2 separate regions of the Homo sapiens genome follow, and region 2 is linked to region 1. The links come from fine-mapping of genetic effects on gene expression. A gene starts in region 1. The other region holds a variant in brackets. All regions are shown on one strand. Distances are from middle to middle. Region 1 holds the start of CISD2 (CDGSH iron sulfur domain 2). Region 2 overlaps CISD2 (CDGSH iron sulfur domain 2).

Region 1 (16,206 bases):
ATGATGAAATGAATTAAGACTCTGGAGGACTGTTGGGAAGGCATGATTGATTTTGAAATGCAAAATGAATGTGAAATTTGGGAGGAGCCAGGGGTGGAATAATATGGCTTGGCTCTGTGTCCCCACCCAAATCTCACCTCTTATAATCCCCATAATTTCCACATGTTGAGGGAGGAAACTGGTGGGAGGTGATTGGATCATGGGAGTGGTTTTCCCCATGCTGTTCGCATGAGATCTGGTTTTATAAGGGGCTCTTGCCCTTTCACTCCTCACTCTTCTCTCTCCAGCCTCCTTGTGAAGAAGGTGTCTGCGCTCCCTTCTACCATGACCGTAAGTTTCCTAAGGCCTACCTAGCCATGCAGAACTGTGAGTCAACTAAACCTCTTTCCTTTATAAATTACCCATTCTTGGGTATTATCTTTTTTTTTTTTCCAGATGGAGTCTTACTCTGTCACCACGCTGGAGTGCAGTGGCATGATCTTGGCTCACTGCAATCTCCACCTCAGGGGTTCAAGTGATTCTCCTGCCTCAGCCTCCTGAGTAGCTGGGATTACAGGTGTGCATCACCAAACCCAGCTAATTTTTTTGTATTTTTAGTACAGATGGGGTTTCACCATGTTGACCAGGATGGTCTCGATCTCCTGACCTCATGATCTGCCCACCTTGGCCTCTCAAAGTACTGGGATTACAGGCATGAGCCACAGCACCTGGCCTCTTGAGTAGTTACCTTTATAGCAGTGTGAAAACAGACTAATACACCTACTATGTAGAGATACTGTGCTAAATGCAAATACAGTAGCTGTCTTATTTATATCTATGTAACCAGTGCTTAGTAATTTGCACATAACAGGACTTCAGTAAACAACTAATTCAGTTTATCTGTGGTATAAATCCAGATTTTCATATACTTGGAACCAGGTTTCTTTTGTCTGTAAAGCAGGAATAACAACTGTAAGCTCATTTGTTCAACAATATTTACTTAGTACCTACCACACTCCACAAACTGCACTATGTGGGGATACAGGCTAATAGATAAGGTCCCTTCTCTCATAGGGTATATATTTCAGAGGACAGAGACTATAAACAAGTGAACAAATAAACAAGATGATCACAGACTATAGTAACTGTTATAAAGGAAATAAAGGATGACATAAGAGAAAAACTAACCTGGGGCAAAGCAGTAGGGTGGCTGCAATTTTAGGTAAGGGGTCAGGGAAGGTTTCTGAAAAAAGAACCTTTAAGCAGAGACCTAACGAATGAGAAGCCAGGAGCTCAAGCACTTGAGCGCAGAATTTTCAAGGCACAAAGAAAAGTAAAGAGTCTTCTAACTTCATAGGATTGCTGGGAGAAACGAATGAAGTAGGAACCCACTCAGTAAAAACTACAGAACACAATTCAAACTATTAATGCATTCTGCCTTAAAACTATATAGTTAGGTAAATATTTGTCTCCTCCCCAACTAAACAAAAAATCCCTAACTCCCTACCCTTTAACAGAGACTTACATAAACCAAGACCTCAGTAAGTTTTAGCCTAATTGAGTTTGTACTCCAATAAACTGGCATTTGAGATAATTCCTACAAGGTCTGTACTTACTTGTCTTTGTTCATGGCTTATGAATAATGACAGTGTAAGTTAAAATACAGGAAGACTACTTAAAATATTTAAGAAAAAAACTTTCAGCACCTTCTAAAATTGTAATACCTCACTCACATGTATCAGGTGGTGGGACAGGTACTGAAGATACAAAAATTATAAAACACACTCCCTGTTAGAAAGGAGCTTGCCATTTAGTATGGAAGACAGACCTATAAAAGACGATCATAATACTGTGTACTATCAGCAATAATACAGAAGCAACGCAGAGGTACAAGTTATTCACTTTTTACTGGCATGAGCAAAAACTGTACAGGTTTTGATACTTAAATAGGTTTCTGAAAGATGAAGAGTACAGAAGTTCATGGGAATATGGGAGGAGGAGCTTCATTCCATGCAGAGGAAGCTGCATAGGCAAAGGTACGGAGATATGACATGCATTAAGTGTCTGGGAAACTAAGCACCATAGTATTGTTAGAATTTAATGAAAGGGAGCTGTAGAACTGAGCAGGTGCCGTATGATGACAAACTCTGATATTCAACAGGTAAGTAAGAATCTAACCTGTGCATAATAGGAAACCACTGAAATATTTGAATATTAGCCTAACTAGGAAATTGTTCACCTATGAAGTCACTCTGGTATCAGATGGAAGATGGATTAGAGGGCCACAGGAATAGCAGAGAGGGCTAGTGGAAGAAGACAAGGCAAGACAACCTGTTGAAAATCCATGGAAATGGTCTGGAAGAAAATAGTTTGAGATAAAACTAAGGTAGTGGCCATTAAAGCAGAGAAGAGAGAACAAATGTGAGCAGTAGTCTCTACTAGGATTCCCTAAACTGCAGAGAACAATGTGTTCGTGCTTGCATTTTCGTTTTCTTTTTTAGCTTAAAACAACAGAAACGTATTCACTCACAGTTCTAGTGGCGAGAAGTCCAAAATCAAGGTGTCAGCATGGTTGATTCTTTCTGGAGGATCTGAGGGAGAAGCTGTGGTGTCCCTTAGCTTGTAGGTCTATCACCCCAATCTCTGCCTCCATCTTCACATGGTGTTCTCCCTTTGTGTGTGCCCAAATTTCCTTTTTAAAATATTTTAATATAATTTCGACTTTTATTTTAGGTTGAGGAGGTAAATGTGCAGGTTTGTCATATGGGTATATTGTGTGATGCTGAGGTTTGGGATATGGCTGATCCTCCCACCTAGGTAGTGAGGATAGTACCCAATAGTCTTCAACCCTTGACCTCCTGCCTCCCTCCCCTTTAGCAGTTCCCAGTGTCTACTGTTGCCATCTTCATGTCCATGAATACACAATGTTTAGCTCCCAGTTGTAAGAATATGTGTTATTTGGTTTTCTGTTTCTGTGTTAATCTCCTTAGGATAATGGTCTCCAGCTGCATCCATATTGCTGCAAAGGATAAGATTTTGTTCATTTTTCTGTTTTGCCAATTTTTTTTTTTTTTTGAAGACAGAGTCTTACTCTGTTGCCCAGGCTGGAGTGCAGTGGCACGATCTCAGCTTACTGTGACCTCTGCCTCCTGGGTTCAAGCGATTCTCCTGCCTTGGCCTCCTGAGTAGCTGAGAATACAAGTGTGCACTACCACACCCGGCTAATTTTTGCATTTTTAGTAGAGACGGGGTTTCACCATGTTGGCCAGGCTAGTTTCGTACTCCCAACCTCAAGTGATCTGCCTGCCTCAGCCTTCCAAAGCGGTGGGATTAAAGGCATGAGCCACACCGTACCTGGCCTGTTTTGCCAATTTTTAAATGTGAGTTGTTCATCTTCTTATTGAGCTCAATACTGAGCAAGGACCTAATATACATATTGACTTTTACATCCCTTTTTTTTTTTTTTTTTTTTTGAGACGGTTTCGCTCTGCTGCCTAGGCTGGAATGTAGTGCCACGACTCAAGCAATTCTCTTGCCTCAGCCTTCCACGTATCCCACTATTAAGATAAATAACAGGACCAAAAAGGAAGAATGAAAGAACCAGCACCATCAGAGAAACAAAATCTAGGCCACTCACAGTGCCTCACACCTATAATTTCAGCACTTTGGGAGGCTGAGGTGAGTGGATAGCTTAAGCTCAGGAGCTCAAGACCAGCCTGGGCAACATGGCAAAACCCCGTCTCTAAAATAAGATACAAAAAAATGAGCCAGGTGTGGTAGCGTGCACCTGTAGTACCAGCTACTCAAGAGGTTGAGGTGGGAGGATGGCTTGAGCTTGTGAAGTCAAGGCTGCAATGAGTGGGTAGAGATCATGCCACCTGCACTCCAGCCTGGGCAACAGAGTGAAACCCTTTCTCACAAAAGAAAACCAAAATCTAGTCAGAAAAGAAAATTTCAAAGCAACTTGAATAGCTGATTTGGTCAGGCTTTGTGTCCCCACTGAAATCTCATCTTGAATTATAATCCCCATAATCTCGTGCCAAGGGAAAGACCAGGTGGAGGTAATTGGATTATGGGTGTGGTATCCCCCATGCTGTTCTGGTGATAGTGAGTGAGTTCTCATGATATCTGATGGTTTTATAAGGGGCTCTTCCTCCTTTGCTCGGCACTACTTCCTGCCATGATGTGAAGAAGGTGCCTTGTTTCCCCTTCGCCTTCCGCCATGATTGTACGTTTCCTAAGGCCTCCCCAGCCATGCTGAACTGTGAGTGGATTAAACCTCTTTCCTTTATAAATTACCCAGTCTTGCGTAGTTCTTTATAGCAGTATGAAAACGGAATAATACGGTAGCTACCAATTTTAGCATAAATTTTCTGAAAGTTTAGACATTGTCAAAATGAAGTATCTTCTTTGGGAAACAAAATTAGGTTTAACCTTTTATTATATATAGTGACACAGGCTAGCTATGACACCTATTCCTTATGACATATAAATACTATTATTAAAACATTTTTTAATAATAGCTAAAAATGACATAAAATGACATAAAAATGACATAGACAAACTCCGATCTTAATGAGGAATTACATTCCACAGAACTAGAACAGAATTTTTCCATTTCAAATTTTCAAACATCTACATATAATATAGCCATATCATCTTATGATACCATAAAAATAATACTGGCAGCTTGGTTGCTAGTTATTTTATAACATATTTTCTCATTTATCATATGTAGCTAAACACAGAAATTATTTCTATTTCTTAACTGTAGAAAAGATAAAATATTTTCAATGCATGAGTTTACTATTACCACTTAAAACCTAAGGTAGGGCTGGGCGCAGTGGCTCACACCTGTAATCCCAGCACTTTGGGCGGCCGAGGCAGACGGATTACCTGAGGTCAGGAGTTCAAGACCAGACTGGCCAACATGGTGAAACTCCGTCTCTACTAAAAATACAAAAAATTAGCCAGGCATGGTGGCACATGCCTGTAGTCCCGGCTACTTAGGAGGCTGAGGCATAAGCATCGCTTGAACCCAGGAGGCAGAGGTTGCAGTGAGCCGACACTGCACTCCAGTGTGGGCAAAAGAGACTCCCTCTCAAAAAACAAAACAAAACAAAAACCTAAGTTAAACATAAATTAGATAATCACAGTAATTTATCTTGAACGCCTCACTCTTGAAAATGTGACATAAACAAAGATAGTTAAGTTGTTTCTGATAGGTGAGAACTGCCTGTATTTAACTAGTATATGGTCATTAAAGATCTCCATGTGGTTTCTAAGAATGCAGAGTCATCATAAGAGAGTCAATAGCTTTAAAAAACAGCTAGATTTAAATAGGGAAGGAAATGTAGGCAATAATAATGTGAACTGTATTGTTTTTTGCTCTAATTTTCATAGAAGAAAATGGAAATATTTTTTGGTCTCCTAGACATTTTAAACAATTGCTAAAAAGTTGTCTTCCAGGTTTTTATTTTAACAAAAGTGTACATTATGGATTCTACAAGTAACTCATTTAAGAAAGCCAAATGTCATTAACTGTTACAATCTATTCAGAATGGGAGACCGAGAGTGGAAAATAGCCACTGAAATTTTTCTTCTATAGTACTCCAAAATAAACCCTGCAATTGTTTTGTCCAATCCAAAAAGGGCTATCTCATGTTTTTCATAAACCAGTTATTACAAGCATGTTCATGTTTCCTAAATAAACCAGCAATAAAATGAGAACTATTAACTATAGCCACACTGTAATGGGACTTAAGTTAAATGTATGTTATTAAAATACTTCTCAGAATGGTCATTATTTCTGAGAATCAGTCTTCATATTAAATATTTAACAACTTTTAAGAGGAAGTTACTATATATTCTTAAGAGAGAAAAGGTTTTGGTTGAGTTTTCTTAATGTCTTTAATAGGAATTAAATATTTGTTGACACTAGGGATCCTCAAGAAAAGAAAGCATACTTCTAAAATCTAGCCATTAAATCTAGTTTCATACTTTCTAATTTTCTTCAATTATACTTGATTTACAGAGAATCGAAACTAATACAAATGCAGCCACCATCTGGAAAAAACATAGGTAATTCATTGGACATTTTCCTTTCTTGACTGTTAAAAATTCCTCAACAGTTAACTTATGCAAATTAGTAAGAAGGTACAAATGTCAAAATGACAAAAGGGTACAAAAGTCACAATATGATCATACCGTTTTGGCCTGGTATTGCTATTTAAGTGAAGACATCCAAAAGGGAGAAATATGACAACTGGTATTTGCTTACTTGCCAATGAACTATTACATAATGAATTTTAAAAAATAGAAACATTTCTAATTTCCAGTTGTAAGGGAATGAATGGTTAGGCCCATTGTGATGTTAAAACTAAAATAAGTATTTAGTTGTTAGGGAAAAAATGAGGATTATATTAAAATATGTAAAGTACTTAAGTAAAAGAAGTGGGGAAAGCCAAAATTTTATGGAATTGCTGCAATTCTGTCAGAGTAAACTGGTAGGATCAAAAGATCTGATGTTTATAAACACTTGATGTGAAACGTTTTTCATTTTATTTTACTTTTGCATTGCTTCTGATGTTTAATGTTCCTTTTTAATGTTTATTATTGTTACCATGCTTTCTATTCAATTGCATGTTTTCTACTAAAACTCTTAATATTTAAAAAATATTAAAATCTCACAATCCACTCAACAGAGCGTCTGTCTGACCATAATTCAATGAATCTCTAGATTTGGAAGAGAATTTGTCATCTAGTTTATCCCTTCTAAATCTATCGACCACCCACCACCAGAGTCTTTTTGTTTGTTTTTTTCATCTTTGAGAGGGGCTATCACTGAAGCACCACATTTGTTTGGGGAAAGCATTCTTTAATTTAAAAAAAAATCTTCCTTAGACTGAAATTCACCTCCCAATAACCTTCACTAATTTGGTTAATTTGTTATCAGTTCTATATTTTAGTCTACACAAATCTTATTTTTCTTCTACCAGACAGCTGTGCGATTGCTGTATTTTAGGTCAGGTACTACAGATCTTTAGAACGTTCCCGGCGAAGCAACCCTATTTACCTCAGAATTATCTTAATTCATGTTTGCACTCCCTGATAACCTAGGACATAGGAGTTCAATACTTGCTGATTCCTTCACCATCCTACTCGGTCTGAGTTCCGTTTAGAAATATCCCCCTTACAATGAAATGCTCATAACTCAACACAATCTCCCAAGTGTTGACTGCATTCTGGAGATTTTCATCCTTTAGATGTGAAATCCTCATGAGTTGTGTGGGTTAAGTGAGGGTCCTTAAGTATAGAACGTTACATATATTCACTAAATTTCATTTTCTAAGATTTCACTCCTCATACCGGCCTTCGAATACTTTCTTGGGTAAGGTATCTTTCTTCCAACTTAAGTTACCGCAGCGGGCCCCGGGACCGTAGAAACGGAGATGACCTCAAATGCCACCTATGATAGGTCAATTCTAACCTGAGGGAATGGAGGTTATCTCCTAATTTCGTTACTAAATAAAACGGTCATATACGTGTTACGTGTAAGTCTATATTTCTCTCCCACACACTCCCACCCACATGCTGAGGGTACAACCCAGCCGGTAGCTGGGGCTGCCTGTTACATGAGGCCTTAGATAACGACGACTTAGCCCGCTTTAAAATAAACAAGTACGCTACAGAGAGCGATGAGCAGGACAGGAGATGAAAGAGACTGGCCTGTTCCCAACTCAGCACCTTCTCTGCAAAAACCTGGTATCTTGCCACGGAATGACACCGGAGACAACTCCGAGGACAAAAGACCCTGGGGCATCAAGCACCCGGAGACTGCCTCACAGGCGTTCCCCAGGCAGCTGCGTCGGCGCGCGCCCACCTTCCTCTGCGCGCGGGGATCACGTGCCAGGCGCCGAGCTCCGTCCCGCCCCTTGGCCCTAGGATTTTTACGCCTCCTTCCCCCGCTTGGCGAACGTGCAAGGATGGGGACTGGCTGATGGGGGAGGATTACCTGTGAGCCTAGCGAACCCGGTAATGCTTTCAGGGACTGGGAGCCGCTTCAGATATGCAGGGAGCTGCACCTTCACGATACGGGCCACGCTCTCCAGCACCATCCTGGCCAGCGGCGTCCACTCCTCTCCCGAGCCCCCTCCGCTCTGGCCAAGCTGCCGCGCCTGCGCCGGGAGCGGAAGCGGCCGGCGGGCACTGGCGGCCTCGGCCTGGGCGGCGGGCGGGGCGGCGGGCCCTGGGAGGAGAGGTGACCTGCCGGGCGCCGATTGGCGGCGGGCGAGTGACGTACGCTCGCGGCGGACTGCCGAGGCGCGGGAACTGGCGGGTAGCGAGGCCCTCCTCGGAATCTCGTGTGAAGGTGGCCCTCCTCTTGGGCCTTTAACGTCTGTAGATGCTGGAGACCAGCAGAAAGGATACTGTGTGCGATGAGATAAGCATGTGAGAATGCTTTCTAACCGAAAGTGCCTTTCAAAAGTGAGTCTCTTGCTGTCTCTACTTCGTCCCCTCTCGCCCCGCCTCTTCCCCTACAGTTTGGGTGCTGTGGCCCTAGGGTTGCATACTCGCCCATGAGTATCCTCCCCCTACCCAGACCCCAGTGCCTAATTTTACTCCTTCACCCAAAGGCCAGGCTTAAAAAAATAAAAATTAAAATATTTTAACTAAACCAGGAACTGTTTACATCTCTGCCCCTTGGCAACTTAACTGCAGCCCTAGCTCCAAAAACCTCTGGTTTTTGCCACTCAGAGAAGATTCGTAGTAGTCCTTCCTTAGATATTTTCAGTTCCTTTTCCTTCGGGAAAGTGGTAAAAGAATCCAAAGCTGGCCGGGCGCGGTGGCTCACGTCTGTAATCCCAGCACTTAGGGAGGCCGAGGCGGGTGGATCACGAGGTCAGGAGTTCGAGGCCAGCCAGGTCAAGATGGTGAAACCCCGTCTCTACTAAAAATAGAAAAATTAGCCGGGCGCGGTGGCAGGTGCCTGTCCCAGCTACTCGGGAGACTGAGGCAGGAGAATCGCTTGAACCAGGGAGGCGGAGGTTGCAGTGAGCCGAGAATGTGCCACTGCACTCTAGCCTGGGAGACAGAGCAAGACTCCGTCACAAAAAAAAAAAAAAAAAAGAATCTAAAGCCTTATGTATGGTTTTCTTTATGTTACAAGGCTTCTGCTGAAGTCTAGCGCAGGGGGTCCTTATGGCTTCCCTAGGCCACACTGGAAGAAGAATTGTCTTGGGCCACACATAAATACACTAACACTAATGGTAGCTAATGAGCTAAAAAAAAATTTTTTTTCATAAAGTTTTAAGAAAGTTTACAGATTTGCATTGAGTGGCATTCAAAGCCATCCTGTTGGGCAAGCTTGATCTTGAAGGTTTTAATTTTGTTGTTGTTGTTGTTGTTACAAGGTTTCGCTCTATCGCCCAGGCTGTAGTGCAGTGGTCAGATCATAGCTCACCGCAGACTCTAACTCCGGCTTAAGGGATCCTTCTGCCTCAGCCTTCCAAGTAGCTGGGTTTACAGGCGTGTGCTGCCACACCCAACGAATTTTAAAAATTTTTGTGTGTATGTAGATGGAGTCCCATTATATCGCCCAGGCTGGATAGTTGTTTTTATTAATATCTCTAAAAGATTTGAAGGGTAAGAGGAGAAAATTTCACTCCCTTGAAATAACTTTCTTGCTATGACTTTGTTTCATATTTTGGCTGAAGTCAAAATGTCCGAAGTTGTGCACTTGCTGATTGGATAATGTGTGTGATATCTTAATAATATGCCTCATTATTTACAGTTCTACACTTAACAACATATAATAACGAACTGCTAATGGTCCAGTATTTCATTGTGTATGACAGTGTAACAGCCAGTTATAATAAATACTTTCCATTTTTCCCCTTGGTATTTTTATTTTACAGTGAGAAAAGGAAGGAATTTTTTAAAGCAATCTTTCATTCTCTGGACTGTATAAATTTAGTGTTTGTGATTGTCCTTCACTAAAAAAGAATATCAGTAATAGAGTTGACCAAAATCTAGATTAAATAATTTTCTATCATTATAATTGTTCAAAATTGTTAAAGTAAAACTTACAATGGAAATTCTACAAACACGTTTAGATACAGGTTCATGTTTTTGAGCTAGGGCAGTATAGAAGATGGTGTATACAAAGTGATGTTTAAAAGGTTGATGGGATTTCCTTTAGAGAGAGTTTGGAGGTAAACCCTGGAGCTTTTTTATCCTGAAGATGATGGAACTTGAATATCCTTGTCCTCTGGACTATTCTGTTAACTGTTATCTTTAATCTCTGTGGATCTAATGTAGAAGCACCCTTGGGTACAACTAGATACCCTAGTTGAGGTAGGGGTAGGTTGGAAGTGGGGTACATTAGGAAAAGAAAATCTGGAAAAGGCCATTACCTATTCGTTTCTTCTCTTAGAGGATCTGTCATCTTGACAAGGGCAAGACGTGCTGTGTTGAGTTTAATTTTTCCCCTTGGTATTTTAAAGTGAGAAAAGGAAAGAATTTTTTTAAAGCAACTTTACATTCTCTGGACTGTATAAATTTAATGTTTGTGATTGTTGTGCATTAAGAATAAGACCTCCAAGCAGTTTTTCTTTAAAGAATTAAAAAATACATACCTCAATTTAAAGATATAGTAAAATGCTCAAATGCCAAATGTACAGTTCCAGGTAACCACCACCCACATCAATATACAGAATGTTCAATAGAGGCGTTTTTAAAAAGCGACCCTTCCAACCACATCCACCACCATTACTACTATTCTGTATTGCTGTGCATGTTTTTGACCCTCACATATAAGTAATTTTACAGTATGTAATTTTTTATGGTTGGCTTACTTCCTCTTAGCAGTTTATGTGAATAGCTGGTTTGCTATTTTCAAGTAGAAAAAATGTAGTGAATGCAAGTCTATATGGATAAAACTTTTTTGGGAGGCCTTGAAATTCAGAGAAAAGGTGTGGATCATATATTAGGTATTCTGATGCATTACATGAGCTATGCGAATGTGTAATAGGAGATAATTCCTAACTCCACCAATTTAAAAATCCTTATTATCCACTTAAAAGGAATATTTTCTTAAATTCCCTTTACTTAAAATTTAAATCCTGTTTTCATTTATATTTGTATTTCATTTCCACAACCCTGCCTTCTTGGCTGCACATGAAACATGGTCTAAAGATAATATTGCTCTAAATAGATGTAATAGGCTTATCTGACCACCTTATGCGATAGTGTTTTTAGACTCCATCTTTAAAAGACATAAAGAAACTGTGGTCAGAAAACTCAAGATAAATATGTAAATACAGTTAAAGGAGTCATTATTTACTTTCAAGCACTTGAGCTTGGATCACTCATCTTCTGCCTGTCCTAGCTAGGCCCAAGACTTTTATTTCTTTCATGTTTTTTTCCCATTAGGTCATCCAGTGCCCCAAATTCAAATATGATCGTTAAGATATAGCCCAAATCTCTATTTCCAGCCCAGATTTCTTTAGGCTAATCTTAATTCTAGGAGTCTAATTCCAAATGCCTACTAGTCTGCTCTTGACATCTTTGCCCACTGTGCTATTGGTTTGTTCATCAGTTTCACTGGTACATGTTTTCTGGAAAATATTACCTTGTTGGTTACATTGGTTGCTTATCTTTTCCTGTTGCTTATCTTCTCCTAGTGTATGTCTTTTTTTTTTTTTTTTTTGGTTGAGACAGAGTCTCTGTTGCCCAGGCTGGAGTGCAATGGCGCGATCTCAGCTCACTACAACCTCTGCCTCCCAGGTTCAAGTGATCCTCCTGCCTCAGCCTTCCATGTAGCTGGGACTACAGGCGCCCGCCACCACTCCCGGCTAATTTTTGTATTTTTAGTAGAGACGAGGTTTCACCATATTTGCCAGGCTGGTCTTGAACTCCTGACCTCATGATCCACCTGCCTCTGCCTCCCAAAGTGCTGGGATTACAGGCGTGAGCCACCGTGCCTGGCCGTGTATGTCTGTTTTTATACTGAAATTTGGTTTGGGTGTAGTCAAATTTATTCATCTTTTTCTTTACAATTTGTGTTCTGGGAGTCTTGTTTAAGAAATCTTTTTCTACCCCTAAATCACAAAGGTATTCACCTGTGTTTTTGCTAAAAGTTTTAAACTTATATTCTTCATATTAGGGCTTTACTCAACCCAGTACTTACTTTTTGTGCATGAGAAAGGGATCTACTCTCATTTGTTATTATTTTACATACAGACAACTATGTTCTAGCACCATTTATTGAAGAGTTAAACTTGTTTTTGTGGTTTGTAATGTCACTTATCTCAAATCAGGTTTCCACACATCCTGGGTTGCTTATTCTCTTCCATTGCTGTATTTGTATAACCTCTATAACAATACCATACTGTCATAATTGCTACAACTATATAAGTAAGTGTTAATATCTAGCAAGATAAGCTTCCCCACCTGTTTTCTTCAAATTGCATTGTGAATGCCTGGCCTTGTTACTACTCTATGAATTTCAGAGTCCTCTTGTCAAGTTGTATGAAAAACTTAACTTTTTACTGAAAATTAATTAGGGCCTCAGTTTTCTTCTCTTTGATATGGTGATACCAGTGGTTATGACTAGATACAATTAATTTTGTAATATACTCAATGAATGGTTATTATCATTATCGTCTTTACCATCAATGAATGACCCTTTACTCTGGCTTTCAGACCTTAAATTCAGCAATTTTACTGGTGACCACAATCTCACATTCTGGTACATTTTTACTGCCACTAAACATCCTTTGATTTAGTTTTGAAACCCTGTCTTTTTCTGCTCTGTCAGCCCATTCCTGGATAAATTGGGAAGTCAAGATAGGTTTGCCAATTTTTTATTTGGTCAAGAAAGGGCATTTAATAACAATATAACAAAACACTACTACTGTCTACTTACTGCAAGGAATTACATACAGCATTATAGTTAAGACTGTAGACTCTTGGAGCCACACTGTTTAGACTACAATTCTGATTCTACTAGGATAAATTATATAACCTGTAAAAATGTAGGTAATACCTACATCTTAAGGTTGTGTTGTGTATATTCACTGAATTAAGACATAGATAGCAATTAAAACAGTACCTGGCACATATACATGCATAGTTAGTATGATATTTCATCTTCATCATTTTTTTTACCTCATTATCAACTCATCTTTTTTATTATTAGCTGCACCTTGTTTTTTTCACAGTGGTTGGTCTAGATCTACATGATCAATGTAATTATGTAATGTGTCAATACTAATAACATGGCTATTGAGTATGTAAGATTGTTACTAATATAAAATGCTTAAGGAACCCCATGCAGATTTCTGGAGCTCTTTCTCTAGATGTGGTTTGTTTGACCCCTCCAAGTCTCATATTGAAATTTGATCCCAGCTGGGCACGGTGACCCACGTCTGTAATCCCAGCACTTTGGGAGGCTGAGCTGGGCAGATCACTTGAGACCAGGAGTTCAAGACCAGCCTGGCCAACATGGTGAAACCCCATCTCTACTAAAAATACAAAAATTAGCCAGGTGTGGTAGCACATACCTGTAACCCCAGCTACTCAGGTGGCTGAGGCATGAGAATCACTTGAACCCGGGAGATGGAGGTTGCAGTGAGCTGAGATTGTACCACTGCAACCAGCCTGGGTCACAGAGTGAGACTGTCTCAAAAAAGAAAAAGAAATTTGATCCCCAATGTTGTTGGTAGGGCCTAGTGGGAGGTGTTTGGGTCATAGGGGTGGTTCCCTCCTGAATGGTTTGGTATAGTCCTTGTGATAATTAGTTCTTACTCTGTTCGCTCCTGTGAGAGGTAGTTGTTAAAAAGAGCCTGGGGCCGGGCTCGGTGGCTCACGCCTGTAATCCCGGCACTTTGGGAGGCCAAGGTGGGTGGCTCACCTGACGTCAGGAGTTCGAGACCAGACTGGCCAACATAGTGAAACCCCATCTCTACTAAAAATACAAAAATTAGCTGGGTGTGGTGGCACACACCTGTAATCCCAGCTACTTGGGAGGCTGAGGCAGGAGAATCGCTTGATCCTGGGAGACGGAGGTTGCTATGAGCCAAGATTGTGCCACTGCACTCCAGCATGGGCCACAGAGTGAGACTCTGTCTCAAAAAAAGAAAAAAAAAACAAAGAAAAACAAAGAAGCCTGGGCATACCCATACCCCTCACTTCTGGCCTTTCTCTCTCACCATGTGAACTGTGTATTCATGGGTTCCTCTTGCCTTCTGCCCTCAGTGTAAGCAGTCTGAAGATTTCACAAGAAGCAGATACTGGCATCATGCTTCTTGTACAGCCTGCAGAACCATGAGCCAAATAAACCTCTTATTTAAATAAATGACCCAACCTCAGGTATTCCTTTACAGCAACCCAAACAGACTGAGACACATACTACAAAAGTTAAATGTACTGGACTTCTTAACAGTAGCTCTGGTAGTTAAAGGGCAATTCTTAAAATATCTGAAGAAAAACTACCTATAATTTAGAATTCTATACCAATCCAAACCAAGAACCCATTGTGAAACTACAATAAACTCATTTTCAAACCTAAAAGGTTTAAAAAATACACAATCTACGCATTCTCTTCTCAGAAAGCTAATAGAGGATGTGTTCCACCTAAATGAGGAATAAACTAAGAAAAAGTAGGACATTTGATCAAGGTATAAGAAACCCAAAATAAGAGAAAGGTAAAAGGAATCACAGATTGATGGATTGGAAAAGTAGATGAAATTAATGGAACAACTAATATGCTTTAACAAATTAAAAGGATACTTACAGTGGACTATAGGTTGGGGTTAAAATAATGATTATCATATGAGAAACTAATCAATTTTTTTAAAAAAAGAATTATTATTAAATCTGTCTATTCAACATTTTAAAGAGATAAACTTTTTTTATTAGAACATTTTGATTTTGGTGTTTGGTGTTCTTACTTCCCCTTTGTGTATGAGGAACTACATTTGGAACTGCCTTGCCTTAACCCCACAGTTTTAAGAGGAAGTCCAGCAAACTAGAAATAAATGGAAAACTAAAGAAACAAAACTGGGATCTATAAATCAATAACATGGCGAAACTATTTTGAAATCACCTTCCATAACACTTTGTGGTACTAAAAACTAACAGTATATAGAATTATCTATATAGCCAAGGTGGGAGGATCACCTCAGGCCAGGAGTTTAAGGTTACAGTGAGGTATGATTATGCCTCTGCACCCCAGCCTGAGCAACAGAGTGAGACCCTGTCAGTCAATCCATAATAAATAAATAAACAAGCAAACACATGATAGAATAGAGTGAGCTCTGAAGAAAGCTTCTCTTTTCTATAATTCTGTAAGTGTATACTGACATACCACTTTTGCAGTCATTGACTAGACAAAAGATTATGGTTACAAAGCACATATATGATATACATAATTGTATATGCATATGTGCATAATTAAAAGCTTAATTCCATAGATCTTTGAAGTTTCTTTTGCTATTTTGGAAGCCATCTTTTTTGCCTTAGAAATTCCATGGTTACTGTAATCTATAAATATAGTCATTAAATAATAAAATAACAAGGCAGATTCTTATTACCTCAGAAGTTTATGGAACTAGCTACTCCAAGCACCGATGAACTAGGCATGAAGAAGGAACCTGCATAATGCTTTGCGATATTGTAGTTGTGCACAGAATAAATGTGAGATTTAATAATGTTACTTTATATATTTAACTGTTTATATTTTGCCTCTGAGCTACTAAACTCAGAGATAGCATTCTGTGTGAAATAATACTATTCAGATTAAAGGCACCCTGACTGACATCAGCAAGTTGGTGGATTAGTAGGTTCCAGCCCTCAAACCCCTGCAGAAATACCAAATACCATTTTGGGAGCCTGGGAGACCTGCTAAGAGGTTCCAGCACCCCAGTAGAATGAAAAACTCAAGAATAGACACATTGAAGAGGGTAAGAAAAACAGTTTCACTTTACCTACATCCTTCTCCTCCAAGGCAGCAGAGTTCAGTGCCAAGAGAGGCCCTTTTGGCCCATGAGTTCTCCCAGGAAGGAAAGTAAGAGTCAAGTGAGTGCCCAGCTTCCCTAGCCTTGCGTGTTGCCGCCCAAAAGGCTCACTTCTGTTTTTCCCTATCCAGAATACTGAGGGACTCTTCACAGATGAATAGTCTAGGAATATCTAGGAGAAGGGAAAAGAAGCAGAGGCTTATAGCAA
Region 2 (15,941 bases), 28 kb before region 1:
TAGAGAAGAGGTCTTGCTATGTTGCCCAGGCTGGTCTTGAACTCTTAGGTTCAAGTGATCTTCCTGCCTCAGCCTCCTAAAGTTCTGGGATTATGAGCATAACCCACTGGGCCCAGCCAATGTAACCTTTTTAAATCTCAGTTTTAAAAGCAATTCTTTTGAAATTAAAAAGTATTCTTTCAATAAGTACTTCCTAAGTTTATGAAAATGTTTTTTATTTTCCTAAAATATATAATAAGAATATATCTGAAAATTGGAGTTTTTATATTTTGCTGAATATAACAAAGCTAAATGTTATGATTTTAAAAAGTAGAGACACAGGCCAGGCATGGTAGCTCATGCCTGGAATCCTAGCACTTCGGGAGGCTGAGGCAGGCAGATCACTTGAGCTCAGGAGTTCAAGACCAGCCTGAGCAACATGGTAAAACCTCGTCTCTACAAAAAATACAAAAAAATTAGTCAGGTGTGTTGGCACGCACTTGTAGTCACAGCTACTTGGGGGCTGAGGCAGGAGGATTGCTTGAACTCAGGAGGTTGAGGCTGCAATGAGCTGAGGTCACACCACTTCACTCCAGCTTGGGTGACAAAATGAGACCCTGTCTCCAAAAAAAAAAAAAGTAAAGTAAAATAGAGACACATTGATTTTTTAAAAAATACTTTTCCTACCTTGCCACTCACTCCATCACACAAATGCACATTTATTGTTTTTAATTACACATTTATTTGTATTCTATTTGGTTAATGGCTAAATCCCTGCCCCTGCCCCCTTGATAGACTACGTAAGGACAGGGACAGTGTCTGGTTGTTGCAGTTGTTTTTCATTATTTCTCCCTGGCACTTAACACAGTGCCTGACATGCAGGAGCCAAATGTGTATTGCATGCCTGCAAGAATGAATGAACAGAAAGGGAAACCTTGTAATTTTGCCCTCTTATTCAAGGATATTCTCCTCCTCCTAAAATATATTGCTACTTATTGTTAGACTGTTTAACTTGGCAGCATAATATACCTTAATTTCCTGTGGCTCTTTTCTTAGTTGTTATTCCAAAACAGAAGCTCCTAAATTTTCATGCAAAAAAAACCTCTATTATCATGTTAGAAAAGCAGGTTCATAGGGCCTGACTACCTGTTTTGAATACCATGTTACTTGCCTATAACCTCAGGAAAATTATTTTCTAATCTCTCAGTCCTTCAGTGTTCTCATCTTACAATGAAGTCTATGACTGTATCTGTTTCTTAGCAGTGTTGTCAGGATTCAATGAGATAATCCACGTAAAGTGCTTAGCACTCTCTCTGGCATATGGTGGTGCTCAATTAACAATGTTGTTATTTTATCTTACCTTCAAGTAATATAAATAATAACTTTTTATTTTTAATGTCTACTGTAGGGAATAATAAATCTACAAAAGGAGTATCTGTTCTCTCTCCTTCCAACAATACTCTCGCAATTTTGTTTTATTATTTCATAATTTTCATAAAGCAGGGAAAAAAGAAAAGCAGGTATGAGGAAAGAGACCACTCACTCGAGTCCTGCAGTATTATTCTGCTTCTGCCTATTCCTGTCTGCTGGCTTCAGGCTAGCTTCTACACAAAGAATATCAAGCTGGTTCCAGGAACTGGCAAGACATAAAAAATTAATTATTTATACAAGTAGAGTCACAACAGCAATAATAGATAACGATAATGTCACAAGTAAATAAGATCAACAAATATTTAAATTTCAATTTTAAATTATTTTCACCTTTATCCTCTTCCACCGTTCTCTGCTGCTAACATAAAATTGGCTAAGGTTCAGCTCTTTCTCTTGTTCTTCAGTTTCGAGTTACTGATAAAAATTAGAGTGGAAAAATGAAGCTATTAGGAGAGTAAATAAATAATTTAGTTTACAAATGTAAGATCAGCTTGGCAATTGGATTCTTTTAAAGAAATAATATTAAATCTCAGTCACTAGGAGGAAATCATTTATCATCTAATAAAGTCCTCACATAATAAGGTTGTCGTAAGAATTAAATGAATTGATAAATGGAAAGCTTTAAGAATGATACCTGCCATATGATGAATGCCATATAACTATATAAATATTATTTCTAGTTTCACCATTATCATAATCATCTCTTAAAAGTCAATGGGTTTGGTTTTTGTTTTTTGTTTTTTCTGTTGGAAGTTCTTTTATGTTCAAATCCTCTTCTAAACTGTAAGATTCTTTCAAGTTGGTTTTCTGCATGATTATCTTTTTCTCCCTAGCATCCTCCAGCACACTGGCTCACGTTCAGTACATTAAAAGTTACGATATAAAAATGATACCATTTTAAATTATTGATTTAGGATATAGAAATTGATCTTAAATTGAGGGGTTCTTTTGCCATAATGTTCCATATCAGAGGTAATGTTTCCACCATTATGTTGTTACTTTGCAACTCCATAGAAAATATGTTATATATTGGTATTTAATTCCCCAAAATTTTAAGGCAATTTCATGCCTAGATTATTAAACACAAAGAAAGAGGGTTAGCAAGAAATTTGCTTTATGTTATTAAAAATAATGTGGTAGAAGGTGACTAGGGAAAAAAACTTGTGACCCAGTACAGTCATTCTAAAACGAAAACTTCAAAGGAACTCATTCTCTGACCTGGCAGGGCATGAGGAGTGAGGGAGAGAGAAACTTACTACTATCTGAATACCTACTGTGTGCCAGCTGTTCTTTGCATTCTCATATTTAATTTTCACAACCATTCAGTAAGATAAGTATTTTGTTCTTCATTTTACACATAAGTAAGTAGAAGGTTAGAGAGTGTGAGTCATTTGTACAAGGTCACTAGCCTGGTTGCAGCAAAAATAGAATTCAAACCCGGTTTGCTAGATTCCAAGCCTGCTGTCAGTTCTGCTATAACACAGTGCCCCCTGAATAGGGAGAACAATGAGAAGAAGGGCAACAAATCCTAGAGAACCATAAGAAACCTTAGTATTTTATGTTGTCTTGTTGTAGTCAAGAACCACTTGCACACGGTAAAGGCAACTAAGCAAAACTGGTTTCGTTAGAACTCCTGGTGTTATGAGGGCAACATGAACACTCAAAAGAGATATTCGAATAGAGGAACACTGAGAGGACAAGAGTGCAAAATCAGCCCAAAAATGTTTGCCTGCTGATTTGTCACTATTGTACTCTTCCTCCACATATATTTGCTAGGAAGAACATGGAACTGATGAGTAACTTATGAAAATTACTGAGTACTTTTTTTTTCTAATAGTCTAGTACTAGATTTTGTTTATTTTAACAGAGCCATTTACATTATATATCAACTCAGTTTAATATTTTTCTTTATGCCCCATTTTTACCCCTAAATGCAGGCTGTGTTAGGTCCTCTGGCTCTAGAAACAGCAAGAGTCTCCGCACCCCACTTGGAACCATATGCGAAGGATGTGATGACAGTAGCATTTTTAGCCATCTTGATCACAGCTCCAAATGGAGCTCTACTTATGGGCATTCTGGGGCCTAAAATGCTTACACGCCATTATGATCCAAGCAAAATAAAACTGCAGTTGTCAACATTAGAACATCATTAAAAAGTTTACCTGTCATCATCTGCCTGCTTCTTTTAATGAATTATTTCACATGACAGAAGAATTTTAAAGTAGAAATATGTGGGGACTGTACAGAGAATCCAGGATTTAGTAAACATGTGATTTCAGTACAGGGCTTTTCTTGGACTTTTTACTCCAAAGTTAATTTAATAAAAATAATATTAAATGGAATGCTCTCTTGGTATTTACATACTGTAAGAACAAATTAAATCTGTAAATACCCTAGGAAAGTTTAAAGTAATCCCTCAGGCTGAATTTGATATCATAATACAAACTGAGCTTAATATAAAATTAAACAAACTTAATGGCAGAAAGAAAAACTTTGAATATTGAACTTGGTAAGATAGCCTAAGTTTCCAAATAGAAGGAGTAGAACTCCCATGATGTCCAGTAATTCAGTTAAAAAGATCACCACAAAAAGAAAGAAAAGGAATAAAACACATCAACTTTAAATGGGTTAACTAAATAGATTTTAAATTCTGGTTTTGGTGACTACCTGAGTAAATAATATGTTCAGTAATAGAACCAAGTTAGTCTTTCCTTACTTCTGCCATGCCCTTAAAATGAAAGTCTGGTTTAGCAGTTTTTAGATGAAACACTATCTATATTTTTATTTATAGAAATAAAATTAAATCACAAATGGAAGTAAACTATATTTTTTTCAATTAGTATTTTAAAATCTAGGCATAAAAGGCAGCCTCCAAAAATGAAAGATTTGGAGACTGCTGTCATGTGGCAGTTTCTTCTCCTTAGTAATATAGAATTACCTTTTAATTCTGGCTGATTAAATCTGCCATGTTAATGTAGAACCCATCACAAGCAAAGTGAGTTTTAATTAACTTCAAGACTCTTTATTTTAAAGTTATAAGAGTCATATAAACGATTCTAAAATGGCCTTATTGAATGGCATCTTAGAAATTGTTTAGACTTCTTTGGCAAAAGCTCAATGCAAGGACTGAATATTACTTTCATTCCTCTTTTTCCTCTTCTCCACAAGCAAGGTATTAAAATACCACAGAATATGACATTTACACATAAATTTGCCAAGTGAAGCAATTAAAATTTAAGGCAATCAAAACTATGTGTTATTCCTATTAAGACTAAGGGCTTTTACAGAATATATCACCGAAACTGCCAGAAGTTCTAAAACCTTCTGGGAAATAACTCTTAGAAAATACACTCTGGGAGAATAACTCTGGGAAAAGATAAAATAGCTACTATTTTAGTGACATTTTCTCCTTATAGTTTTACAACAAAGTACAGACTCCATTTTCAAATATTGTAATTCTAGTACTCAAATTCTAAAAATTTAAACTGTGCCAGTGTTTTGACTACTATTTAAATCATGAGGGCATCTCATTGTCACTTACAAGAAAATAAAAATATAAGCAGGGTGTTGTGGCTCATGCCTGTAATCCCAGCACTTTGGGAGGCCGACATGGGCAGATCACGAGGTCAGGAGTTCGAGACCAACCTGACCAACATGGTGAAACCCCGTCTCTACTAAAAATACAAAAATTTGTCAGGTGTGGTGGCGCACACCTGTAATCCCAGCTACTCAGAAGGCTAAGGCAGGAGAATCGCTTGAACCCAGGAGGCAGAGGTTGCAGTGAGCTGAGATCGCACCACTGCACTCCAGCCTGGGAGACAGAGCAAGACTCTGTCTCAAAAAATAATAATAATAAAATATATATATATATATTTACAAGATAGTATTTTACATTCACAAGAGGATTAGATTTCAAAGTAGAAAGTTTATTTTAATAAAAGAGAGATAAATAATTTTCAAAATGAGGAATTGTGTTATTGATTAGGAGGAAAATTGTTGTAACTATTCTTTTTATTCTTTATTTATTGAACTTTCTCTAAGTGTCTGTGATATATGTTTATTATACTGAAATAGTCGCCCTTTTAAGGTGGTGTGGCAGATGTTGTTATTTATTTGAAATTTTAAGTTTTTTATTTATAAAAAGTTTTTATAAAAATTTATTAATATAATTTAAAAATTACAACCAGTTAACCATGTGTATGATATTAGTGTTTATAGTATTTAAACAAATAAGGCTGGGCACAGTGGCTCACACCATCCCAGCACTTTGGGAGGCCAAGGCGGGTGGATCATGAGGTCAGGGGAGGGAGACCATCCTGGCTAACATGGTGAAATACAAAAATACAAATAACAAAAAAAATAAAAATACAAAAAACTAGCCAGGCGTGGTGGCAGGTGCCTGTAGTCCCGGCTACTCGGGAGGCTGAGGCAGGAGAATCACTTGAACCTGGGAGGCAAAGGTTGCAGTGAGCCAAGATCACGCCACTGCACTCCGGCCTGGGTGACAGAGCGAGACTCCGTCTCAAAAAAATAAAATAACAAATAAATACAAGATTGTTGTTTCTTATCAACTTTTTGTATCTTTGCCTATTTTTTTCACTGTTTAAGGAATTTTTATTAAAGCAAAATTTTATAATCCAAATTACCTTTCCTTGCTCAGTTATCAATTCTGTTACTTAAAACAGAAGTGACATTCTGAGCTATTCCACACTAACGAATTACAAAATTAAAGGAATGCTTTAAATTTTTATACTTTGCTGAAAATTATTTATCACAGAGTCTGAAAAGCATTGCAGCATTTTTATATTTTATTATTTTGGGAGGATTTTTTGTTTTCAAATCAGTAAGTAATCTAGGACTATCATTGCATTTGTTAGATCTGACGTTTGCTTGGTATGTAAAGTTCAAAGTTTCCTTTTTAAATTTATTTTATACTTTACAAATTTTTTCCATAGTATTTAAGGTTTTTGATATTGAGATTTTTTCTTCAGTGATGCGCAAGTTTCTTTCTGTGGTCCCTGATCAGTTTTAAATAATTGGAACACCAGTGGCACCATTAACTGCTTTCTGGGCAGCCTCTTTAGCTTGGTGGTCTTGTGGTACAGCTATACCTTTGTCAACCTTAGTACAGCGAGGCTCTGGAGATTCAAGCATATGAAGAAGTTCTAAATAACCAATCTCCAACAACATGCCAATGATTTTACCAGCACGACTAGGGCATGGCTTGAAGAAGAGGAAAGAGCCATTCACTCGTTTGCTTTTGCTTTTGAGGAGGAGCAGATGCCATCATGGAAGTCAAAGGTTCTTGACCTTCTACATGAACAGCAGGCTGCTGCACGGTAACTTGGGGCTGTGCATGAAACTGCCATTGAGGATTGTGAACTTCCATAGCATATTTATACTGTGAAATGGTGCAAACAGCAGGAGTATCTGTAGTAGCAGTAGCGGCAACTGCAGAATGTGCTCCTATTGTCTGTGTTGATGTGTTACAACAGCTGTGTTGACATGACTCGTGGAAGCTGTGAAGAAGCTGGTCTCTTACTACTAAATGTAGTGAGCTAGGAGTGGCTTGGGCATATTTTTCAATGGATGAGGTCTGGCACCCTGAGCAATTTAGGGAGGATTTGATCTTAGTTGAGCAGTTTGGCTAGGAGAATACTTTGCAGCATGGCTGTCAGTCTGTGGGATAACTACCATGAAGTAAATTGAAGAAGGTGCTGGCTGATAGAGGCTGATTCCCAGGTTGAGCATAGTTTTTACACTTGCCATTCTTTGCACATACTGTACTGGTTAATGAGCTGAGCCTGGTGCTCTTCATTGCTCTTCTTCCCATGGAGTTAATGCTATATACAATGGCTCAGTGCCCACAATTCTACCATTCATTTCTGAAAGTGCTTTAGTTGCTTCCTCTGGAGAGGAGAAACATACACAAATCAAACCCTTTGTTGTGACAACCATCCTTCATAACCTTTGCATTAGTGATTGTACCAAGTGGAGAAAGTTCTTTCCAGAGACATTCATCAATACCATCAAGATTTTTTGCATAAATGTTAACACTTTGTTATCTGGTGATCCTATACTGCTTGATCTTTTCAAATTTGCACACAAGTTCCATCTGCCATTCTACTTCTTTCTGAGCTTGACCAACATCAATTTGTTTTCCATTGAGCTTCTTTCTGTTCATCTCATCTGCGCATCTTTATGCCTTTCAAAGCTGACAAATCCAAAACCTTTGGGTTTTCCACTTTCATTAACCACTACTTTCACACTTAAGACAGATCCCAACTTGCCAAAGAGATCTTTAAGGCACCTACCATCCATGTCTTCTCCAAAAATCTTCCTGTAAACATTGGTGAACTTTTTAACTCTGAGTTCTGCTTCTCATTGTTTACAAGACTTAATCCAACAAAGACTTTGCTGTCATTTAGAAGCATCCATTTCATTTTTTAATAGAACTTTCAGCTGCTTCTGTGTCTCAATATGTACAATGCCATCACCCTTGAAACCATTTTCACCACAAAGCACCTAATGTGAAAGTGATAGAGACAGGAGGCAACCAAGGGTCCCCCGGTAAAACCCCACCTTCAAGACTAAAACAGCCTGAAGGCTGTTAGATAAACTGGACTGCGGGTCCTGGTTGAAGCCGCCCTTTCCCCACTGATTCTGAATAATGCCCACCTGTGCACTGGGATTACGGGGTGGAGCCTCGGGAAGTTTGTGCAGTGTTTATTTTTTCAATTACTAAAAATGAATTGTTAAAATCTCTCACTATGTTTGTGGATTTTTTTATTGCTCTTTCCAGTTCTAATTTTGGCTTTATTTATTTTGAGACTACATTATTAGGTATCCACAATTTTATAAAAATTAAGAAAAAATTAGAAAAGTTTAGAAAAAAGTGAGAAAAATATAGAAAAAGATGTGACAGAAGCACACATGGGCTTTATCTGGATGATCTCGTCAGGTTTGTATCCTGGGGAAGGCCTTCACAGCAAGAGATGGACCAGAGGATTGAGGCAAGGGGGCCACCACTCAGAAGGGGAGGAGGGCAAAGGAACTCCTGAGGGAGGAAAGGATCAGAGAGGAGGCTTTCATGTCTCAGTGATATCACTCAGCAGCATGGCATGGAGTCTATAGTTCACAGAGTTCCAAAGAGCAGAAGCAGCCTGGGGTCTTTACAGCCTAGGGTTTATCTGTGGCAGGCAGATTTTGGACACAGTTTCCCAGGGCATGTAAATCAGGCAGGCTCTAAATGCCTACAAATCTGCATGTCTGGGCAATGTTTAACACAATTGGATGTTTAAAAATTTGAGTTTGCTGCCAGTTGGCTTTTGAGCTAATGGGTCTCAGCTTGCTGTGAAGAAATAACCTAGGCACCAATACACAGAGGCCATCCTTGTCTCATTTACATTATATGTAGTGACTCTATCCTTTTTTGCTCACAATTGTTTTACTCATTTCTTTTAGATTTGTTTACTGAGATTATTTGGTAGGTAAGATTTCAGTTTATTATAGTTTGCTAATTCATTATTCAAAGTGCTCTACTAAAAATTTTGCTCCATCCTTAGTCCCCATTTAAACAAAACTGCTGTGGGTAAGGTCATCATTGGCCTTCGTGTTATCAAATCTGTTTTATTAACAAAATTTTAATGTTTAAAATTTTCTTATGTGTACACATTTAATTTATGTAATTTTAAAATGGGGTATCATACATGGAATTTGGTAGTTTTCTTTCCTTTTTTTGTTCACTACTCTGTTTCTTAATGCTTTATTATAACCCACAAGGCAATGTCCCCAATATTTATTATGTATAACTGATATTCACATAAAACATATTTTGTCATTAAGTGTTACCTTTTTCCACATAGGTGTTCCTGTTCTTTAGTCTTCTATTTTCTTTCTCTTCTGCTTCTCTCCCACCCTTCCTGTCTCCATTTATGTACGTATTTAAATCATTTAAAAAATCATTTTATGTGTCACTTCAAAGCCTTCAGTGTAAATTGAGGGTCCAATTTTGTTTTCTTTGAATTGTTTATTTTCATATATTAATTTTTCATCTACATGTAGATTCTCAATTTTTTACCACTCTTGCTTATTCTTAATACAATTGTTTTTCTTAATTGATCAATTCCAATAGTTCTATAGTAGGTGCTGATATCTGCTGAGAAAAGTTCCTCTCAATAGTCTTTTTTTTGGAACAATTTTCTGACTATTCTTCTACATGAACTTTAAGATAATTTAATCCAATTTTAAAATGCTTTTGTGATTCTAATGTGAATTTAATTGAATTTATATATAATTTTAGATTTATGTTTTTACAAGAGTTTTGTTTGTTTTTTTGAGACAGGGTCTTACTTTGTCACCCAGGCTGGAGTGCAGTGGTGGGATCTCAGCTCACTGAAGCCCCAACCTCCCACCTCAGCCTCCCAAGTACCTGGTTCTATAAGCATGCGCCAAGCCCAACTAGCTTTTTGTTTTGGTTAGAGATAGCGTTTCACAATTTGCCCAAGCTGGTTTTGAACTCCTGGGCTCAAGCAGTCCTCCTGCCTCAGCCTCCCAAAGTGCTGAGATTACAGGTATGAGCCACTGCGCCTAGCCTCATGTGTTTCTTATTCAGTAGCTTTTGGTAACATTTTTATAGTTTTTTTCTTATAGATCTTCTACCTTTCTTGGTAAATTTATTTTACCTTTATTATTTTTGTTATTGTGAATATTTTTACCACTAGCATTTCAAGGTGCTTATTGCTAATATATTTTGTATTATCATCTTATTTCCAAATAACTTACCAATATTCCTCTTTAAAATATTTGAAATTTCTGTTTTTCCTAATCTCTATGATTTCCTAGGCATATAATCATATCCACAAAAAGTTTTCTATATATTTATACTGATTATTTCATTTAAAAATCTTGTTACATTCATGGATCCTCCAAGATAATCTTTAATAACAAATAATGACAGCAGCTATTCCTACTGGTTCCTTGTTTTAATTGAAACGTTGTTTCATGATTTAAAATACTTGTTTTGTAGGCGTTTCATAAATAACGGTTATGTTTAGACACTTTCCTTCAATTTCTATTTTACTCAAGAATCTTCATTAGGAGTGGATGTTTAATCTTAACAATAGCCCTCTCAGCATTTATTGATATAATCACATTTTTCTCTTCTTTGATGTCATTTATGTAATTGTGTTAATATACTTAACTGATATTGAAATACCCATGAATTCCTGAAATACAGTGCTCTTTGCATACTGTATTACTCTTTTTTGTTGTTGCAATTATTGATAACAGTGCTGGGTTTTTATTTAGAATATTCATTCATATGTATGTCAGATTGGTCTATAGTTTTGGTTTTTTTGTTTGTTTTTTTGTTTTGAGATGGAGACTTGCTCTGTCACCCAGGCTGGAGTGCAGTGGCGTGATCTCGGCTCACTGCAACCTCTGCCTCCTGGGTTCAAGCTGGGATTACAGGCATGCACCACCATGCCAGGCTAATTTTTGTATTTTTAGTAGAGATGGGGTTTCGCCATATTGTCCAGGCTGGTCTTGAACTCCTGACCTTAAGTGATCCACCCACCTTGGCTTCCCAAAGTGCTGGGATTACAGGTGTAAGCCACTGCACCTGGCCTACAGTTTTGTCTTATGTTTATCAGGTTTTCATATTAATGCTGCACTGCCTATGTGAAATGAATTGGTTTTTCTTTTTAAAAAAAATTTGGGATACTTTAAATAACATTGGAATTATCCTTCTTGCAACCCTAGTACTTTTTAAATTATGGATTTTAAAAAATCACTTTACATTCTCTTCTTTGTAACTGGTCTATTAACATTTTAAATTTCTTCTTGGATTAGTTTTGGTCATTTATATTTTTCCAGAAAATTACCCATTTTCTCTAGATTTTCCAATGTGTTGCTAAATAGTTGCATGCAGCATTTCAAAGTGAATCTTTCTTTTTTCTTTTTCTTTTTTTTTTTTTTTTTTTTTTTTGAGATGGAGTCTTGCTCTGTGGCCCAGGCTGGAATGCAATGGCACAACCTTGGCGCACTGCAACCTCTGCCTCCTGGATTCAAGCGATTCTTCCACCTCAGCCTCCCGAGTAGCTGGGATTACAGGCATCCGCCATCATGCCCAGCTAATTTTTATATTTTTGTAGAGACGAGTTTTCACGATGTTGGCCAGGCTGGTCTTGAACTCCTGACCTTAGGCGATCTGCCCGCCTTGGCCTCCCAAAGTGCTGGAATTAATTACAGGTGTGAGCCACCGCACCTGGCCCTCAAAGAGAATCTTTCTACCTTCATCTTATTTTACTTCTTGGTAGCATTCTATAGGGTTGAAGATTGTACTTGTGAGTTTTGAGTTTCTTAATTTGTTGAATGGATGTGATTAATTTATATCTTTAGTGTGATCATGCAGAGAAATTTATGAGGGATAGTAATGGAAAAATTACAGGAAATCTGAAAATTTAATAAACTTGACATTTTTATTTTCTCACTAGTACAGGGTTATCTCTAATTATGAAATGTACTACCCTTTTCTCCTTTTCTGTATTATTTTGGAAAATTACAGCCTTATAATAGAGATCAGAAATGTGTTAACATTATGGCTGATCTATCTGACAACAGTGTTCTAAGAAAACAGTATCACAAATATACTTTCTCACCATAGTTGTTCAAAACAGAAGTTTTGTAAGCGAAGAATCAAGCATTTAAACCAAAGGAAAGTTAGAGTGATGTCATCTCTGGTTGAAAAACATAGTCTTTCTGAACAGATTTTCAATGTCCTTCAAGACCATAACTAATATAAAATTAAACAGTACAATTGCTAATAATATAAGCTGTACACTTTTTATATTAAAGTGATGCTTGCTACAACATGACTTTACTAAATTGGATTTCTGCAAAAGATAAAACACCAGGCATGGTTGCTCATGCCTGCAATCCCAGCACTTTGGGAGTGCTGAGGCAGGGAGGATCACTTGAGTCCAGGACTTCGAGACCAGCCTGGGTAACACAGTGAGACTCTGTCTCTTAGAAAAATAAAAAATTAGCCGGGCATGATGAAGCATGACTGTAGTCTCAGCTACTTGGGAGGCTGAGGTGGGAGGATC[G/A]CTTGAGCACAAGAGGCTGAGGCTGCAGTGAGCTACGATCATGCCCCCGCACTCCAGCCTGGGTGACAGGGCCAGACTTTGTCTCAAAATATATGAAAGTAGATAAAATTAGTTTACTTGCTGAACATGATCAAATATAGCAAGTTTCCAGTAAAAGACTATTAGGACAAACTATGTTAACACAACCTCAGATGATGAAGCATAGTTAAAACAAAACAAAACAGCTTTGGGCATATTCTATACTCCAACCTCTGTGGTGCAAAGGGACTATATGGCCAACCGGATGTTGAGGGAGTCACAGAACTGCTGCACATGTGGTTTTTAAACATGATTTTTAATTCCCCCTAAAGTGGAAGAAGTCATCTAACAAAATTTATTATGACTTAAATTGCTACTGCTTTATTTAGTTTTCCTCAAACTTTAACAAAATAAATAATTATGTAGTAAATTATAGTCATTAAGCTTGAAAAATGTTTCAATTGAATGGGAAAACTTCCTGTGATAAAGCCTCCAATCATCGAGTAAGTCAATATATTTTACATATAAATTTTCCAACATGTTAAGCACTAAGCTTTTAACTAAATAGCTAAGGGGAAATTGTTACCACCAAATGCAACACATATCCTGCCTTTTTGAATAACACATACTACTTATCTTGATTCCAATTCATCACTAAACATCACTTGTATAATTTGATCACAGTGATGTCCTCAGAGACAGTTGTATGCAGAATCCTATAAATTGTCTCAAGCTGCTATGCCTTTAATGTTCACCTTAAATTTATTTTTGTTCCCCTGACTTGCTGTCAGCTGTCACATTTTGTAGTTCACCCCTTCTGCAAGACCCTTTTGATACTTGTGATTTGTTAAGAAGCAGAAATCAGATAACCAAACTTGTTAGAATTCAATGTGAAGTAAGAATAAGTAGACTCTGGGTAGCTGCTGCCTCTACCATTAAAAATTTTTTAAAAAGAAGACTTTTTCAATTACCACTTAATTTGAACTTGACTTACCTAGACTACTATTAGTCGATATTAGTTTAACAGAGGGAAAATTGTTAATAAAGTAGATGTAATATGTAAACACATACATCATTTCCTTGTTCTGGATCTATCAATGATTTCATACTTTGACTATATCTAAATTATCTGCTTTTCCCAGCCTTCAAAGTGGTCTTTAATTCACCCCTGCTTTCCATGGGTTAAATTTCCTACAATGCTGAGATATTTATATTGGTTTCCTCCTGTCCTACGAACTTCGTACTGATTTCTGCCACAATAAATTTGATTAGATGAAAAAAAAAAAAGACTTTTTTTTTTTTTAAGATAGGGTTTCACTTCTGTTGCCCAGGCTGGAGTGCAGTGGCACAATCTTGGCTCACTGCAACCTTGGCCTCCTCAACTCAAGAGATTCTTGTGCCTCAGCCTCCCGAGTAACTGGGACTACTGGTGCGCCACTGTGCCCGGCTAATTTTTGCATTTTTCTGTAGAGATGAGATCTCACCACGTTGCCCAAGCTGGTATGGTACTCCTGAGATCAAGTACTCCACCCACCTCAGCCTCCCAAAGTGCTGAGATTACAGGTGTGTCGTCACTGCACCAAGCCAATGAGGCACTCATTTCTGAATAAAGTACAAGCATTAGTAACATCTCCCCTGGTCTCTCCAGATTGGTTATGCTGCCACAACTGAATTCTAAATGGGTTAAGTATTATACAATTACTTAGGCTTCTTTGGTAGGTATCAAATAAAACATCCACCTAAATTCTTAAGAACCTTGTTAAATAGTGGCATTTACAAACTCTCTATACAGATTCTGACAGCACATTTCTATTGGAAGACTATGGAATCACAATGAGGAAGGTAGTACTATATAGATCAGCAGCTGGCTTAATTGGCTTCCTGTAACTTACTTATTAACAAATTAGGTTACAAAATACAAAGTCAACTTAATGAATCATCGTATTTGGCATTGAACTCAAAGCTGAATTGTGTGAATTGTGAGGTGCTTTCCATAATTCAACTTGCTTAATTACCCATATGAATGAATCATTCATACCTCAAGCCTGCTAACACTTTTGGATACCTGATGTTTATGTAATAGTGATGTTCATTTGCTGAGTAAGGCATGAGTAGTTTCCTAGGTAAGCAGAAGCAGTCCTCAAAACAATCATGTGACGCAGTAACAACAGGGCTGTATTTTGAAGGCTCTAGAAACCGAAGACATGTATTTCAAGAGCCAAGTTACTTTTTTTTTTCTTTTACCACTTATCCTCAAGTTCTACAAGTTACTTACACTGCATCAATTCAAATACATTTGGTTATTAGATGTCTATTTTTTAAAGATGGACAAGATAAAATTGTGTAAATTTACAAGAAGTAATGCAAACTGCTAATAATGCTTATTTAAAGGAGTTATTAAAGCAACAGCTTACTACCAACCCTACGCTTCTGAAAAATGTGCACAGGTGGGAAAAGATATGGGCATAGCTCTTAGCATATTTTAACAACTGAAAATGTGGCAGGGAAAAAGTCTTTATTCTGAGAGTACAACCATCTTACTTTTGGGGTATTAAAATTACCTTTTATGAGATAATTCATTTTCAATGTTATTTGACAAAATTCAAAGTTGGTCATTCATTTTAGTCTCCTCATTTTTAGTAAATTTGCCTCCTGTAAAATCTAAGTTATGGGAACCACTAGAACATGTGTGAAAACAAGTTGCTGTGAGATGCAGTGATAGATTTTACAAAAAGAAGAGCATTTCATGAACACAGATCAGGATATCCAAAATTTTGGTGAGGTGGATTTTTTCCAAAGTCTGGTGACCAACTGTGGAAAAATAATTGGTTAATCTGACAGTGAGGCCCCTTAACAGTGTTGAAGAAAATGTATCCGAAAAAGCACCCAGAGTCAAAGAAGTGAGAGCAATGCTGTATTTATCCCCCACTGACATGTGAGGAAAGAACAATTTTGGACATACACCTTGTAAAACTTCTCAAAAACCAGACTACATTTCTAACTCTAAAATACATGCTGCTGGTCATGAAGATGTTACGATCATATAATTGAACCTACTGACATTACATGTAATAAATTAAAAACCCAAGTACCATGCTTAGTGTAGTGTCTGGTACATACAAGTGCCCAATAACAATTAGTTTTATTTCTAGAAGGATTACCTCTGTCTGCCTCTTGTACATTCTTATAAAAAGAAAGCAAAGTGAACTGAATAAACTGTATCTTAAATAGACTAAAGAAAAGCTTTTGTATTTGTCTTTTCTCAACTAAGCAGTTTCCAGAGTGCCTAGCAAGGTCTCAGAAACGCACTCAGTGAAGGGAGTTAAATGGTAACTCTTTTACAACAGAAAGGATTCCCTACAGAGCCCAGCAGAGGCGGAGCACTAGGTTGCCCAGCCTGGCCTT

Evidence for each region. PIP is the estimated chance that this variant, and not a neighbour inherited with it, causes the effect.
Region 2: its variant is the best candidate, but not a certain one, in a credible set for the expression of CISD2 in whole blood (INTERVAL, PIP 0.82).

The regions. Positions count from the first base shown.
Region 1 is chr4:102,860,975-102,877,180 of GRCh38, reverse strand. It overlaps CISD2 (CDGSH iron sulfur domain 2), which reads right to left and starts at 8,189. Exons shown (of 3, transcript NM_001008388.5): 1 at 7,994-8,189. The coding sequence starts at 8,096. It also overlaps a transcript of UBE2D3 not described here. RefSeq lists silencers at 7,929-8,048, 8,079-8,368 and an enhancer at 8,599-8,738.
Region 2 is chr4:102,888,739-102,904,679 of GRCh38, reverse strand. It overlaps CISD2 (CDGSH iron sulfur domain 2), which reads right to left. Exons shown (of 3, transcript NM_001008388.5): 3 at 11,873-15,941. SLC9B1 (solute carrier family 9 member B1) reads left to right here. Exons shown (of 12, transcript NM_139173.4): 12 at 3,348-3,752. The coding sequence ends at 3,563. It also overlaps the pseudogene PABPC1P7. Among named protein-coding and RNA genes, the nearest start is that of CISD2, 28 kb to the right of the region's middle. The variant G/A (reference allele first, on the strand shown) is at 12,519.